3 linked regions of the Homo sapiens genome follow. The gene in region 3 interacts genetically with the main gene of each other region. Each region holds a gene or a part of one and is shown on either strand. Other genes may lie near its edges. The genes, in order: ACACA, ATG7 and RALGAPB.

Region 1 (3,655 bases), on a different chromosome or scaffold from region 3:
AAAATATAAAACTAATCAATAAGTGTTTATTAATACAAACAACCATATATTAGGATTAATTACTAATAAACAAATGCTATTTATTAGTAATTAATACTAATAAACACTTATTAATTACCTACTCCATGTACAGTACAAAGGTAAAGGGAATGGTATTAAATGTTTGATACAAGGCAATAAACCATTAAAAAACAGAAAAGAACTAGTTCAAGTTTCAATTTTAGATAGATATTCCAAAAGATCTAAGCTGTTAAAATTACCTCCTTCAGCCCTATGTTTTAGGCAAGCAAAAGTGCTGTTAATTTAATATTCATTGTTTATGATTAACAGAATATTATCTAACATTTATGATATAGCAGTTATATTTGCATAAGCTGTTATATACAGCATGCTAAGGTCTCTTGTATTAGCAATGTAGACAGTTTCTTTATGTCCTTTTCATAATATGAGCAGTATAATTTTATTATTTTAAATAACTATAAGAGTACATCATGGTGACTATGGCTCATAACAATAGATTGTGTACTTGAAAATTGCTAATAGATTTTAAGTCTTCTCACAAGAAAAAAATAAAATAAAAGTCTATGATTTATTTGATACCTAGTTCTTGGCCAAGAATCTACCTCCCCTCAATAACAATACTGTTCCTGTGGAAAAATAAGATACCTTTAAAGCAATCAATTTTATACATTTATCAAAAATATTTGAAAGGAAAAATACTTCAAAAGGCTCAGAACAACAAACAGAAAAACATCTGCCAAGCACTGCATAATTTAATACAACATGAATGCAAGTGTAATTAAAGATATTCAAAATTTCTTCAAAAAGGTTGTTCATATTATTACTTTGACAGCAGATGATTCCTATTCCCATGCTCACACCTTCACTTAAGATTAGCACAAATTTATTTTGTAAAATGCAATCAAATGCTATTATACTCACGAAATTGCCTCTTCTCTGTTTTCTCCCCAAGAAAAGCAGTGACCAAACTGAGAATCAGCAAATTCATGAAGTCCCCCTGCAGCAGCAACACTGAAATATCCCCAAACATTCTTATTGCTGCGGAAATTTAGCTCCTGAACTGTTCCTGAGCTGGGCTTAAAACCCTGTTAGAGAATAAAGAATGAGAGACCATATTATGTTTCGAAGGAAGAGAAGATTTATATATTCATTGTTTAAGTTCTCTGTTAATCACACACAGAAGCAGAGAAGACACACAAAAATGATAAAGGCCAAGACCCAGTGCCACAGACCCACTGAAGACTCTACAGTGACTTAAGTGGGATTAAGTAACCAATGAAGCAACAACCATTTACTTATCTGCTCTGAGAAACCTCTATGTTTCCCACTCCAGAGGAAGTCCCAAGATATTTCAGAAGTATACTTTCAGATACTATCTTAACATTAAAGTTCATTAAAAGGAGGTATAAACCTTTTAAGTGATGGGTTACCTCATCTGGATTTTCACTAGTGATCCGAGCAGCAATAACATGGCCCCTTGGACAAGGAACGTGTGCAGAATCTTCAAAATCAATGGGAGAATCACCCCAGGGAGATACCCCATACATCATACGGATATCCTTGATTCTATATAGAGGAATCCCCATGGCAATCTGAAAGGTAATAAAACACACATCTTTAATTTTTCAGTTACTTCCCTTAAAGTGTAGAGGCTATCAGATAACCTAAAATATTTTTATTTTTGGAGCCACTCCCTAAAACATTCTATTTTTATAACCTGTATTCTACAATCATCAACTCTAAGTTGCTTGAAATACAATATATCACTACAGATAAGTAGTTAGAATATTCTCCACTTCTAAAGAAGTCCCCACATTCCTAATGCAACAGACACCAGTTCCCCTGTTGTCATTTCTCCATCACGTAATAAGAATGAAAATATCCAACAGAGGAGTAAATGTTAATAGCCATCCAAAAACAGACAGCTAGAAAGTCTTAATTGTGTCATAATTATCTCTTCCATCCCTGCAAACCACTGGAGGAAGTAAGTAAATCTTTAGTCTTTAATAGGAACCCAGAAGGTGTTCTCGATGTGGGCAAATGTTAGATAAAAATAATATCAAGCCTTATCATTAACTATTACTGCTTTCCATAATATTTGTTTCCTGGGCTGAGAGAAGACAATAATATTGACAGCAAGCACTTTACAAATTATAAAAATATATGTGTGCTACCACACTCTTGTAAGGAAAAACTTCAACCACTAATCTCTGATGCAGAATTATTTCAATAAAGAACACTAGTAAAAAAACAAAAATGAGTAGGGAATAATTATAATACAAAGTTGTGAAGTTTACTATAGCTAAATAATTGAATAAAGCATACATTATTAACATTTATTTCTAAAACATGACACATTATATCAGATGTGTCTGGCTAGAAAAAATAACATTCCTATGTCTGTACTACATCAGGAAAACCAAACCACACATGCATAACACATACAGGGTGAAAGAGAAATGACCATTAGGTGTGACTCAGATAGGAGGTGCTTTTCTCTTATCACACACTGGTTAAACCCATTTTTCAGGCCTCTCTGACTTTTCTAGGCTCTGCAACCCAGATCAGGGAGACTCACCTGGAGCTGTGCTGCAGGGAGATTGACATCAGCCACCATCTCTGTACAAGGGTGCTCTACCTGCAGCCGAGGATTCAATTCCAGAAAGTAGAAGCTGCCATCCTGGCTGTACAGGTATTCCACAGTCCCAGCACTCACATAACCCACCATTTTGGCAAGTTTCACCGCACACTCAAAGAAGAGAGATAAGCAAACATAAGTATCTCACCTTATCCAACTGCTAGACCACTACAGCCTCTCACTGACTCAACTGTTCAGTGTGTATAAGAGCCATCAAAAGCTTTTAGCCACATGAGAGCACATTTCTGATTATTATACAATATCCCTGGACAAGGATGAAAAACTCAATGAAAAATCGGGAGAAAAGAGCATTTTTCACTTTGCATCAAAAGCAACCTCACCCCACCAGACATAAATGCATGCAGACAAAAAAACATGGGGACAGACTCTTGTCCAGTTTCCAGTATTTCCAATATGCTCCTCTTCTTCCTAGAAACATAGCTAACTAGTTAGAGACTAGATTTTTTTTTTTTTTTTTGAGACAGAGTCTCACTCTGTCTCCTGGGCTGGAGTCCAGTGGCACAATCTCGTGGCTCACTGCAAACTCTGCCTCCCGGGTTCAAGTGATTCTCCTGCCTCAGCCCCCCAAGTAGCTGAGATTACAGGCATGCGCCACCATGCCTGGCTAATTTTTGTATTTTTGGTAGAGATGGGGTTTCCCCATGTTGGCCAGCCTGGTCTCAAACTCCTGACCTCAAGTGATCTACTCGCCTTGGCCTACCAAAGTGCTGGGATTACAGGCGTGAGCCACCATGCCTGGCCTGGTTAGTGGCTAAGTTTTGACAAACAGGACACCAGCATTGGTAAGTGATATGCATAACTCCCAAGTCATATATATATATATATATATATATATATATATATATATATATATATATTTTTTTTTTTTTTTTTTTTGGAGATGGAGTCTCGCTTTGTCACCCACCCAGGATGGAGCACAGTGGCGCAATCTCGGCTCACTGTAACCTCCGCCTCTCGGATTCAAGTGATTCTCCT
Region 2 (3,655 bases), on a different chromosome or scaffold from region 3:
GTCAACCAGGGAACAAGCAGTCACATCCACAGTCTTCAAACTCTTATCTGTCCTTCTCATTGGTTACTTCCAGGAGCTGTTTTTCTTTTATTTTGGTTTCCTTCTGCTATAATATCCTTCACCTTCACATGCAATCTGGTGTCCATCAGCTTCAGTTTTTGAGAACGGATGCACTGGATACCAGCATTATGGGGTTTGAGAAGCCTACATGGGAGGGACAGTGACAGCTGAGAAAATGTGGGAAAGAGGAGAGAGGAAGCAATAATGCCAGGAAGATGGAGGGCAGTGTGCCTCCTTCTGAGTCCTTTTGTTACCTCCACTGATCAACAGTGTTGCCCATTTCTCTGTTCATCTGAGAGACACCCACCTGGATTTGTCTAAATCACTGTGGAGCCCTATGCCAACCAACAACTAAAATCTATGATGGTTTCCTAAAAGCTGGCTGAGTTATGAAGGCTTGCTTCTAAATAATTACATCTCTGTGGTTTTCATTTCTGGTATGTTTAAAGAATCCTGAGAAACGGGAGAAGTACTTTAAAACTGGGCCAAGCAAAGGCCTGATTTCCGATTTTCAAAATGTTTGATTTTTCTTTGTTTCTTTTCTCTTTTTTTTTTTTTTTTTGAGATGGAGTTTCGCTCTTGTTGCCCAGGTTAGAGTGCAATGGCACGATCTCGGCTCACTGCAACCTCTGCCTCCCACGTTCAAGCAATTCTCCTGCCTCAGCCTCCCAAGTAGCTGGGATTATGGGCGCCCGCCACTACGCCCAGGTAATTTTTTGTATTTTTAGTAGAGATAGGGTTTCACTATATTGGCCAGGCTGGTTTCGAACTCCTGACCTCAGGTGATCCACCTGCCTCAGCCTCCCAAAGTACTGGGATTATAGGCGTGAGCCACCACACCCGGCCTGATTTTTCAAAGATAAGAATAAAGATGGGTTCTAAAGACCACTGGACAGAAGTTTTGCTCCCAGGAAAGGCCCATATGGGCCACTCTAGTCCACTTAGCACCTTTGTACAATCAGAAAATTACACCTCTGCTTCAAGATTTTACTTCCTTTAGTTAGAGAAATGTTGTAATATACTGATTAGATTAGCTCAAGACATGGTAGCCTTCTCTGCCACTGTCATTACAAAAATGCACCCATGATACCTATGATATAAATGGAACCCCCTTTGATGTGGCCTCTTGTGCAGTGCACAGCCTGCATAACTGTATGAGGCAGCCCTAAGTAATCACAAGAGGCCAATATGGTTTCTCTAAGAAAAAGTCATGACAGAGTAACTGCATTCCTACCTTGATCAGGGAAGAATCATAGACGCAGGACATACAGGTCTCAGAAATGTCTCTCACAAGGCTGCTCTAGAAATCCCGGTAGACAAGGTGAAGATACAGGAATTGGATCCTGACATAATTAGAGGGATTAAGAACTGGTAAAATAATCTTATTCAAAGGATCTTGGTTACTGAATTAATTAATGTTAATTAGAAAGGAGCTAATAGCAGTACGTCTTTGGCTTAGTCTCTGGGCCTGTCCAATTTATTTTATTTATCCACATGAATGAATATTTATCAACATTTACTAAGTATTTCATGTGCACTGAACCCTGTGCTGGGGCTAAGAGCAGGGGGAATAGGCAAATAAACATATTCAATAAAGTATTCTTATTACCATATTTTACCAATAACTTGGATAATGATATAGATTTGCTTATCAATTTCATGACAAAAGAAGAAACAGGCAATACAAGTGACTAAAATTCAGGATAAAAAAAGATTCCAACCATCTGGAATGGCAGGCCTATTTTAACAAGATTTGAAATTTCATAGAGGTAAATCTAGGGCCCTAAATCTAAGTTCAAGAAAACAACTGGACAAGGCAGATGGTCTGCTAGACTGGAAAGGGCATAGGTTCATGAGCCAGAGAGACCTGAGTTCAAATCCTGTCTCTGCTACTTTCTAGCCACACCACCTTGGACAAGTCATTCAACTTCTCCGAGTCTGTTTCCTCTTCTGTTAGATGGGGATACCACCTACTGTGCAGAATTAGTGTGAAGATTCAACTAGAAAATGCATACATCTGGCCCATAGGAGACACTCAAAAAGCAGGACTAATATCATATTGTTTACCAATAACATGCCCGGCCAACATGGCGAAATCCCGTCTCTACTAAAAATACAAAAAAAGGGCCGGGCATGGTGGCAGGCGCCTGTAATCCCAGCTACTCGGAAGGCTGAAGCTTGAGAATTGCTTGAACCCGGGAGGCGCAGGTTGCAGTCAGCTGAGATAGCACTACTGCACTCCAGCCTGGGTGACACAGCAAGACTCTGTCTCAAAAAAAAAAAAGAAAAGAAAAGAAATGAAATTGGGGCTTCCATTAGTTATTTCTTCAATAAACAGTTATGTTACATACTTGTCCCTGTGCTACATTTCAGGGTTCAATGGCAAAAAAAAAAAAAACTATGGTCCCCACCTTTAAAGAGCTAACAATTTTGAAGCCAAAACAGACAACAAAACAGAAGAGGAATCGGAGTATAGCAATTTGGAGGTAAAACAAATACAGTATAGCCTGGCGTTTGTACAGAATGTTATAGGAGGAGGGATATCTAAATTAGACTGATGAGGCAACAGTGTTTCCTATAGAAACCCTTAAGCCAAGGTGGGGTTTTTTTGTTTGTTTGCTTTTTATTTTTTGTTTTTTGAGACGGAGTCTTGAGACAGAGTCTTGCTCTGTCACCCAGGCTGGAGGGAGGTGGCTCAATTTCGGCTTCACTGCAACCTCTGCCTCCCGGGTTCAAGCGATTCTCCTGCCTTAGCCTCCTGAGTAGCTGGGATTACAGGCACCCGCCACCATGCCTGGCTAATTTTTGTATTTTTAGTAGAGACAAGGTTTCACTATGTTGGTCAGGTTGGTCTCGAACTCCTGACCTTGTGATCCACCCGCCTCGGCCTCCCAAAGTGCTGGGATTACAGGCGTGAGCCACCACACCCAGCCAAGCCAAGGTTTTAAGAATATCCTATAGAAACCCTTAACCCAAGGTTTTAAGAACATCCAAGTAGATTCTCAACAGGGGCCCTACTGGCATGCTGGATGGAACAATTCTTTTTTGTTTAGAGCTATCCCTGCACACTGCAGAATGTTGAGCATCTCTGGCTCTCTCTCAATAAATGCAGTAATGCCCTCTGGTCAATGTCACAAAACAAAGCAAAATAAAACAGCTCCACAAACTTCTAAACCCACCCCTGATGGTTGAGAAAGGGAGGGTTAGATGACAGCACTAGCCCCATGCAAGGACCCCTGGATGAGGAGGCTAGAGGTAGGGAGTGGGGACTCTCCAGGCAAAGGGAGGAAGCTGACTCAGCTCCACATCATCAGCTGCAGAAACACCCCATGGCCTCTGCATAAGCTTAGAATTTTCTTGGCCACCTCCACATACCCATCATCTAGTGAATTTCTTTGCTCACTTCAAATCACAGCTCAATCATCACTTCTGAGGGAAGCCTTCCCTGACTCCCTCAGCTCTGGATTAGGTCGATCCTCCTGTATTCTAGTCCTCAAAGAGCACCAACTACCTTACCTTCATAGCACGTATGCAGTTATCCTCCTCAGTAGAATAAAAATTCTATGAGAAAGGAACCATGTCAGCTTCTCATTTT
Region 3 (3,655 bases):
CACCTGTCAATCTCCACACCAGTCAAATTCTTTACTTATGCTTCCAGATCCCAAGGACTTTTGAAGAAAGTCAGCAGAGTGAGTTAAATAACTTCACTATAGATAATGCTACTTAACCTCAGCTGCACTGCCTGGCAATTCTTAAGAACTGTCTGGGATCCCCTATTACACTGCCAAGAACCAGGATTAAAATTTTCATAAACTTCTTCAATTTCCCTCCTTTCCTCTCTAAATGTCTCTGAACCTTCACCTACTCTCTCCTTCTGTCTTAGAAGCATCTCTTTTCTAGACTAGACTCTTGACCCTACTGCCTCTATTACTTGTAAGTCCCACTGCCCATCTTACAGTGTTAGCCAGACTCCTCTCTACTGGTTTCTTCCTTTCAATCTATAAGCATGTTCATAATCCTCACATCCTTGAATGTAAAAAAATATTTAAAAACTAGCCTTTTCTGGCCGGGTGCGATGGCTTACACCTGTAATTCTCAGCACTTTGAGGGGAGGCAAAGGAGGGTGGATCACCTGAGGTCAGGAGTTCGAGACCGGCTTGGCCAACATGGTGAAATCCCGTCTCTACTAAAAATACAAAAATTGGCCAGGCATGGTGGCATGCGCCTGTAATCACAGCTACTTGGGAGGCTGAGGTAGGAGAATCACTTGAACCCGGGAGGCGGAGATTGCAGTGAGCTGAGAATGCACAACTGTACTCTAGTCTGGGCAACAAGAGCGAAACTCCATCTCAGAAAAAAAAAAAAAAATCAGCCTTTTCTTTCCTTAACGAGGCCATTTCCTTAAGCTATAATATTACCCATTCTGTACCCTTGCCTTTACTGTTAACAGTGTAGTTTCTATTCACTGCCTGTCCCTCAATACATTCACTCCCCAGCCCTTTGAATTATCCCTCCTACTGTACACACCTGTTCTCAAAGGTCACCTAAATTTCATGCCAAAATTCAGGGGACTTTTTCTATTCCTTCTTCTCCCTGGTCTCTCCAGCATTGGAGAGTGTAGCCCTTCCTCCATTCCTGCTCTTCTGTTCTCTCATGTCCTGACATACTTCTGTCCCCGACTTCTTAAAATTCTTCTCCCTTGACCTAAGAGACAGTTATCTTAATTAACTCTCTAAATTAATCCAAAGCCAAATAAATTTTTCCCATCTTCCCAAATCTATCCTCTTCCTAATGTCTGCATTTCTGTAAATGGCACTGATATCTCTTTGTCACTCAAGCTCAAAATCTGAAATTCTTTGGCTCTTTTCCTTCCCTCACCAATTCAAGACTGCTTGGATCTACCTCCACAATACATTTTATATATTAAAATTCCATATGAGTGAAATAGTCCTTCCTTTCTTATAAAGACTTAGATTCTCATAATAGTCTCTGAACTGGTCTTCCTTTTCCAAATAACTCTACTACCAGAGTCTGATCATGTCACTACAGTACTGAAACCTACCACGAACAGCCAGGCAGCCCAGCAACACCTCTAAGAGATATGCAGTTCCTTTCGATCAGCCACAATCTATATTCGTCTTAAACATGGCAACCTCCTGGATGATGGAGGCCCATGTCATCTTAAAAATCATCTCCAACAACACTAAAAGCATTGTCTTGACCAAGGAAGTCGTAAGAATGTTTCTATTCATCCCCTTGACAACAGCTAAAAATAATGTACTTACTTCTTCAGTGACTATTTCATGCAAATCTGGAATGCTGAGATCTGCTTTCACAAAAGGAATCTTGTCCACCTCTTCAGGAAATGGCCGATGTTTCACAGAATATTTAAATCCAACGTCATTTTTAGGAACTGGGCGAGGTTCAGGTACAAAAAGCTGTTAAAACAAGTAACATTATGTTTATTACACAGGGTCCAATACCCATCTGTAATGACATGTATTTCCCTGGTCTCTTAGATGCCTGTGTTTCCCTAGGATTACATGTCACAAAAACTCACTCAGAACCTGCAAATGCTACAGATAACAGCAAAGGGAAGCAGCCTGTGCCCCTGTGTACTCTATTTTTCTAAAAATATTCATCGACTTCTTATAGATCTAATGACTGACAAATGGGCTGTGGACCTCTACTGCTGCAGGCCTGAATCTCCCACATTCAGTGGTTATCCAATGGGTATAGCATTTTGGAGCTTTAAGACTCAAACTCTCTTCCCCAGGGGCTCTCACATCATTCAATATAATTAAAGACAAGTTTGGCTTCACTGGGCATCTCTAGAAAGTGATTTTAACAAGAATCTTAATACGGCTTAATTGAGAGTATGGGCACCAAATCTAGGTCTTCACAGCTCCAAATCCATGCTTTAATATGTATATGGGTACATGGTGAACCCTAAACAAATTTTAGCTCCTTTCCTGGTCCCCTTCCTCTTCAGTCTTCAATGCTAACTTACTGGCTTACAGAGTTGATGACAGGATGTGCTCTGTACTGCCCCCTCCAAAAAAATGGAGGACTGGGTGATAAACACATCACATCTAACAGAGACATCTAAGATATTAAATGATTTTAGGCACATGCTCCAATTTTGTGGTGTCTCTCAAATGCTAGTGAAATATTAAGTCACATTTTAAATTTTTTTTAATCACATTTTTTTATTATGATACTTTAAGTTTTAGGGTACATGTGCATAATGTGCAGGTTAGTTAAATATGTATACATGTGACATGCTGGTGCGCTGCACCCACTAACTCGTCATCTAGCATTAGGTATATCTCCCATTGCTATCCCTCCCCACTCCCCCTACCCGACAACAGGCCCCAGAGTGTGATGTTCCCCCTCCTGTGTCCATGTGTTCCCACTGTTCAATTCCCACCTATGAGTGAGAATATGCGGTGTTTGGTTTTTTGTTCTTGCGATAGTTTACTGAGAATGATGATTTCCAATTTCATCCATGTCCCTACAAAGGACATGAACTCATCATTTTTTATGGCTGCATAGTGTTCCATGGTGTATATGTGCCACATTTTCTTAATCCAGTCTATCATTGTTGGACATTTTATATTTTTAATAGCAGAAATAAAAGCTTACAATGTTATAAATGAAAAGAGCAGTATACAAAATGACTCAAATTCTATTCAAGTGTTATTGTGTATGAAAAGAAAAAAAGGGAAGGAAATCCAATAAAATATTAGCAGTGGTTATATTCCTCTGGATAGTGAGTAAAGGTGATTTAAAATTTCTTCGTTATCTGAATTTTTCCAACTTCTCAAGTATTATTCACATAATTACAAATGTAATAAAATAAACTGCACCCCAAAAGATTTCATTAAATTATACACAGCATACATATGTGTGTGTGTGTGTGTATATGTATGTGTGTGTGTGTGTATATATATATATATTTTTTTTTTTTTTTTTAATTAGGCTGGGTGTGACAGCTCACATCTGTAATCCTAACACTTTGGGAAGCTGAGGTGGGAAGATCACTTGAAGACAGAAGTTTGGGATCAGCCTGGGCAACAAAGCAAGACCCTATCTCTACAAAAAATTTTAAAAATGAGCTGGGTGCCATGGCATGTGCCTACAGTCTCAGCTACTCAGGAGGATGAGGCAAGAGGATCACTGGAGCCCAGGAGCTTGAGGCTGCAGTGAGCTATGATTACACCACTGCACTCCAGTCTGGGCAACAGAACAAGACCCTGACTCTTT

What was found.
Region 1: changes in RALGAPB (region 3) and ACACA together harm fitness more than expected from each alone (negative genetic interaction), as found in Homo sapiens cells (one large-scale study listed by BioGRID).
Region 2: of RALGAPB (region 3) and ATG7, changing one enhances a phenotype caused by changing the other (phenotypic enhancement), as found in Homo sapiens cells (one large-scale study listed by BioGRID).

What each region holds. Positions count from the first base shown.
Region 1 is NC_000017.11:37,256,761-37,260,415, forward strand, and holds part of ACACA (acetyl-CoA carboxylase 1), read right to left. Parts: intron 2,771-3,655; coding exon 2,600-2,770; intron 1,614-2,599; coding exon 1,452-1,613; intron 1,107-1,451; coding exon 943-1,106; intron 1-942. UniProt on the Homo sapiens protein: Cytosolic enzyme that catalyzes the carboxylation of acetyl-CoA to malonyl-CoA, the first and rate-limiting step of de novo fatty acid biosynthesis.
Region 2 is NC_000003.12:11,278,742-11,282,396, reverse strand, and holds part of ATG7 (ubiquitin-like modifier-activating enzyme ATG7), read right to left. Parts: exon of another isoform or gene 3,577-3,655; intron 1,404-3,576; 5' UTR 1,295-1,403; intron 228-1,294; exon of another isoform or gene 205-227; 5' UTR 1-204. UniProt on the Homo sapiens protein: E1-like activating enzyme involved in the 2 ubiquitin-like systems required for cytoplasm to vacuole transport (Cvt) and autophagy.
Region 3 is NC_000020.11:38,549,243-38,552,897, reverse strand, and holds part of RALGAPB (ral GTPase-activating protein subunit beta), read right to left. Parts: intron 1,828-3,655; coding exon 1,675-1,827; intron 1-1,674. UniProt on the Homo sapiens protein: Non-catalytic subunit of the heterodimeric RalGAP1 and RalGAP2 complexes which act as GTPase activators for the Ras-like small GTPases RALA and RALB.